2 separate regions of the Homo sapiens genome follow, and region 1 is linked to region 2. A link means that fine-mapping ties the variant in region 2 to the expression of a gene that starts in the linked region. Tissue or cell type: whole blood. Region 2 holds a variant in brackets; the other region holds the start of a gene. All regions are shown on one strand. Distances are between the middles of the regions.

Region 1 (2,679 bases), 54 kb before region 2:
CGCAAGGCCAGCATCTTGCCCATCTCTGTGTCCCCCATAACGTTCTGTCCATGGCTGATGTTTAATGCTTACACGCCCACCTAAACTGATTTGAGGTGGATCGCCTCAAAGACCTACCTGAGTGCAATGCAAAGGTGACCTCGCTATCGTCGGGGCCCTCCATGCTGCCGACCACCCCTTCCTGGGGTTCTAGAACCCAGCCCTCTTCGTTGCCCTCTTCCTCCTCTTCTTCCTCAAAGTCCACATCTTCCATCTCCTGGGCCAGGTCATCTGCTTTGGGGAGAGGGTTAGAAGATGGGGCTCGGGAGGCGGTAAGAGGTACGGAGAGAAGCATGAGGAGGCCTGAGGCTGGGGCGGGTCATGTGGCGAGAAGGGAAGGTGGAGTCAGACACACCGGGGTCCGCGGGGGCGCGCGGGACACAGGACGGGAGGCCACGGCTGGCCAGAGACCGTGCGGTAAGGGAGGGCCAAGGGGATGATGGGAAGGGGGTGTGTGAGGGGAAGGGCCAGAGGAGGCGTCAGGGAACCCCCACCCCAGCCAGGCCTGAGAACTAAGTGTGAGGGTGGGAGTGGGGGAGGAGGGGAAGAGGGATATCGGTAGGAATGACCAGTCGGGTGTGGAGGGGAGCGGGGAAAAGCAGGAGTCAGAGGCCAGGGGTGAGCGTCTCCTGTCCCATGGCCTGAGGAGCGGCAGTTCTCACCTGGGTCCGGCGGACCGGGATCAAGTTCTACCACCTCGATAATCTCTTCATCACCATGGAAGCTTAGGGTCTCCAGTGGGGGGGTGTCAGCAGCAGCCCCGCTTTCCGATTCGGACTCCATGCGGCGCAAGCGGCGGATCCACTTCTCTGGGCCCAAACGCCTCCCAGAGTCAGCTCTGCGCGACGACGCGGAACTCGAGCCCCTCCTCCCGGCAGGAAGTAGGCGTAGGCGACTCCCCAGCAGGAAGAGCGACGGCCGTTCGGCCAATAGCTACGAAGGTTGGCTGGCCGCCTCACCAATCACAGAGCGGCATTGGAAGATGGGGCCGGGGCGTGGCGGAGAGAACCCAAACTCCGCCCCACCTGACTCCGCCCCCAACTGGAGGGAAACAAGCGAGCGCGCGCGCCTCCGGGGTCTCCTGGGAAGAGTAGTTCTCCTGGGTCCGCTCTGCGGGCTTCTGGGAGATGTAGTTTCTGGTCTGTAGGCAGGACGGAAGGAGCGGGGGAGGCCCCTTACGCAAACTACAATTCCCGGCGGGGAGCGCGGTGAAGCGGGGGTGGGATCTGAACATGGCGGCGGTGGTAGCTGCTACGGCGCTGAAGGGCCGGGGGGCGAGAAATGCCCGCGTCCTCCGGGGTAAGGAGAGGGACCCCGGGGAGGGCAGGACTGCAGAAGATCCCTTTTCTTTCACGTCCAGCCCGACGATAGCAGGAGGTCAGGGCTCTTGGTTCCTCCCCACACTTTTCTGCAAGATCTTAGAGTCTGGGGGTGCAGAGATGCTCTTTAGAGGTCACCCAGTGCATCCCCCCGCCTTCGGGTTGCTCGACACCTCCGGGGTCTTGCTGCAAGAGGGAGCTCCTAGGAAGCCTGTTGGACTCCCGCGCTCCAGGTGTTTCACACTCACCGCAGTGCAGAGGAAAGAGCCCCGGGCTTCTGGAGGTTTGAGTTCCAGCCCCGGATAATTAGCAGTTTGACCTTGGGCAAAGCAGTTTTTCTCTCAGGGCTTCAGTTTCCTCTTCCGTACAGTGCAAGGGATGGAGTAGACTATCTTTAAGGTCCCTTCCAGTGCTAACATTTGCAGTTTCAAAACCTTTTCCCGGATTTCCTTCATACGTCTTATGTGAGTCCCACTGCAGTCCTTCCCATGCTGTCGTCTGAGGAAGAACAGCGAAGCTTTTCGTCCTGGCACCAGGGTGATGAGCCCGCAGTGACGTGGAAGTGGCTTCCAAAGGTGCCACCTCGGTGGCGATTTTCCCATTTCCCTTTGGATTCTCCTTGGCACTTCTTACTTCAGACTGCAGTCACTCCCCTTCCCCAGATCTCAGCCGCTCCTCCCAAGCCCTTACTGCCCCCCACCTCCCCGCTTGCTTTCTTCTCATCTCTTCTTACTGACCTTCCTTACCTCCATCCACAGGGATTCTCGCAGGAGCCACAGCTAACAAGGCTTCTCATAACAGGACCCGGGCCCTGCAAAGCCACAGCTCCCCAGAGGGCAAGGAGGAACCTGAACCCCTATCCCCGGAGCTGGAATACATTCCCAGAAAGAGGGGCAAGAACCCCATGAAAGCTGTGGGACTGGCCTGGTGAGTTTTAACCACCCCTTTGCCCACCAACGGGGCGTGGCTTGTAGGGGAGGGCAGGACTTAGAAACTTCTCCAAGTTTCAGGTGGCGAGCTGAATCCAAAGTTGTGGGAACAGAATTGTTGGGTTCGATTGGAATCTCAGAGGGGTGGGGCAGTGGAGGTGGGAAAGTATGTGGAATTGAGAAGACAGTGGGTTTACTGTGGAGTAAGCTGAGTTGATCTGATTCAGACTTGGGTCCCTGGCCTCATCCTCCCTTTTGGGAGCTTGGAGTGAGACCCAAGTTTAAGTAAGTAGTTCGTTGAGATCATGTGAGCTTGTACTAGTTGTATAGTAGTACTCAGAAGGCGTTATGAACATTGTGATTGGGCTCTGACTCTGACCTTAATACATATT
Region 2 (2,679 bases):
CTCCTCAGAGCCTGGCAGAGTGCCAAGTACATAGGAGGAGCTAGAAAAGTAATTCGGCGAATGAATAAATCCATGAATGGCAGCTGACCCCGATGATCTCTCAGGTTTCTGCCAGTTGAGAAAGTGTAGCAGTGCCCTGGACGGGGAGGCGGGCGGGGCGAACTGCGAGCTCCTGCCCCTTCCCAGGGCTCAGGCGACTGTGGACCCCGATCAGCGCAGGCTCGCGGCCCGCTGTGGCCCCGCCTCCTGGCCGCCAGCCGGGCGGAGCCAGGCCGCCCCCCAAGCCGGGTGGCCTTCGGGGTGCTTGCCCGGCTGGAGGTGGTGAGGGGGCGGGTCCAAAGGAGAGGTCAATGGGCGGGGCGGGGCCACAACGCCCCCACGTCCAGAGCCGGCAGGCAGGTTCCCCGCGGGGGGCCGGGGCCGGGCCGTTGCCTAGCAACGCCGAGCCCCGCCCGGCCGGCGCGTGCCTGCCCCCAGCATGGCTTGGCAGGGCTGGCCCGCGGCGTGGCAGTGGGTCGCCGGCTGCTGGCTCCTCCTCGTCCTTGTCCTCGTCCTACTTGTGAGCCCCCGCGGCTGCCGAGCGCGGCGGGGCCTCCGCGGTCTGCTCATGGCGCACAGCCAGCGGCTGCTCTTCCGAATCGGGTTAGTGCCCGGGCTCCGAAGCGTGCGGGCTCGGGAGGCGGGCGCGCTGGGAGAGGGGACTGGGAGGCGGGGGCTGGAGCTGGGGGTGGGCGTGGCGGTTAGGAAGGGGCTTGGTCTAAGGGAAGAGGGATCGAGGAGACGGACTGGAGAAGCCACTGAGTTGGGGGGCCTGAGGGATTTGGGGGGCTGGACAATTGGGATAAGCTGGGGAAGGAGGATCGGAGAGGCGGGCCAGGGTGGCCACGGAAGGAGGGCGTGAGAGGACATCTGGAGCAAAGTGCCACAGAATGGGCTGGAGACCAGGAAGCTGGACAGGGGGATAGTGCAGGAGCCAGGGCTGGGAAGACCGTCCCTGTCCGGGGGTGAGGTCAGCAGATGCCCGGGCTCCGATGGCAAGTGCCGGAGAGAAGGAATGCCTCCCACCGTCTGACATTTAAAACCGCCAACTCCTTTCGTATGTCCTTGTCCCACTCCCCAGCATCCAACTCCTCACCAGTCAAGTTAGGTTCTTCTGTCCCAAGCAAGAGTCCCAACCCTGTTGGATTCCAGTATGTCCCTTTCCTTCTAACCAAAGCCTGGCCCGTGTGGAAGCCCCAGGCTGTGAAATCTGACCCAACTGACTCTGCCCACTTTTCCAGTGATTTGTCTCCGTCGACCCTCCCCCGCTCACTCTGCCCTCCTGC[C/T]TCCCTCTACCCCTTCCTTCCTGGCCCCAGGGGAGGGTGGTGCCTAGCAAGCACTGTTCAGCCCCAGGGACACTGAGAGGCAGGGAAGAAGACAGGCCTCCGAGGCCCCCTGTCCCCTTCCTACTACCAGCCTGGCCATGGGTCAGGACCTCAAGCCCCAGTTTAGGGACAGTAATGTTGGGGATGGGAATTGTGAGAGCCCTGGCCACAGGCCAGGTTGTGGGGAGAGCCTAAGCCTGGGAATTTCCCGAGCTTCCGAGCAGACATTGTGCAATTCACCCTCTCCTCCCCAGACCACCCCACACGCCCAGAAGCTTCAGGCGCAGGATTCCACTCACAGTCTAAGAAATGCAGATATAAAGGCAGGATAACTAGAAAAACATGGTGCTGGAGGGTGGGGTGGGGATCTTGTGTTTGTGCCTTTTGGGGCATTCACATCTCTAATATCCTAAACCTTGGTCGCAGTTTAGATAATGTGCCAAGTAAGTTACCATTGCTCTGCACGTTGCATTAAAATAATGAGATTGAAAAATATTTAGGCCAGGTGCGGTGGCTCACGCCTGTAATCCCAGCACTTTGGGAGGCTGAGGCAGGTGGCTCTCCTGAGGTCAGGAATTCGAGACCAGCCTGGCCAACATGGTGAAACGCCATCTCTACTAAAAATACAAAAATTAGCTGGGCACGGTGGTAAGCGCCTGTAATCCCAGCTACTCAGGAGGCTGAGGCAGGAAAATTGCTTGAAGCCGGGAGAGGGAGGTTGCAGTAAGCCGAGATCGCAGCCATTGCACTCCAGCCTGGGCGACAGAGTGAGACTCCGTCTCAAAAAACAAAAAAAAGAAAAAGAAAAAAAAATCCCAAACATGAAGGTATCTAAATAATTTTCTTTTTTTTTTTTTTTTTTTTTTTTTTTTGAGACGGAGTCTCGCTCTGTCACCCAGGCTGGAATGCAATGGCATGATCTCAGCATGGTGAAACAGGGTTTCACCGTGTTGGTCAGGCTGGTTGCAAACTCCTGACCTCATGATCTGCCCACCTCAGCCTCCCAAAGTGCTGGGATTACAGGCATGAGCCACCGCACCCGGCCTTTTTTTTTTTTTTTTTTTTTTTTGAGACGGGCTCTTGCTCTGTTCCCTAGGCTGGAGTGGTGCAGTGGCACAATCTCAGCTCACTGCAACCTCCGCCTCCCGGGTTCAAGCAATTCTCCTGCCTCAGCCTCCTGAGTAGCTGCGACTACAGGCACCTGCTACCATACCCAGCTAATTTTTGTATTTTCAGTAGAGATGGGGTTTCATCATGTTGGTCAGGCTGGTCTTCAACTCCTGACCTCATGATCTGCCCACCTTGGCCTCCCAAA

Evidence for each region. PIP is the estimated chance that this variant, and not a neighbour inherited with it, causes the effect.
Region 1: it holds the start of PNKD, and the variant in region 2 is fine-mapped to the expression of PNKD in whole blood (INTERVAL, PIP above 0.99). The same link has a PIP of 0.9 or more in blood mononuclear cells.

What each region holds. Positions count from the first base shown.
Region 1 is chr2:218,269,265-218,271,943 of GRCh38, forward strand. It overlaps PNKD (PNKD metallo-beta-lactamase domain containing), which reads left to right and starts at 1,255. Exons shown (of 10, transcript NM_015488.5): 1 at 1,255-1,338; 2 at 2,117-2,285. The coding sequence starts at 1,272. It overlaps AAMP (angio associated migratory cell protein), which reads right to left and starts at 873. Exons shown (of 11, transcript NM_001087.5): 1 at 702-873; 2 at 118-270. The coding sequence starts at 822. RefSeq lists enhancers at 1-51, 620-939, 1,090-1,469, 1,500-1,549.
Region 2 is chr2:218,322,790-218,325,468 of GRCh38, forward strand. All of the region lies in intron 2 of PNKD (PNKD metallo-beta-lactamase domain containing), which reads left to right. Among named protein-coding and RNA genes, the nearest start is that of MIR6810, 18 kb to the right of the region's middle. RefSeq lists a silencer at 87-606 and an enhancer at 89-684. The variant C/T (reference allele first, on the strand shown) is at 1,326.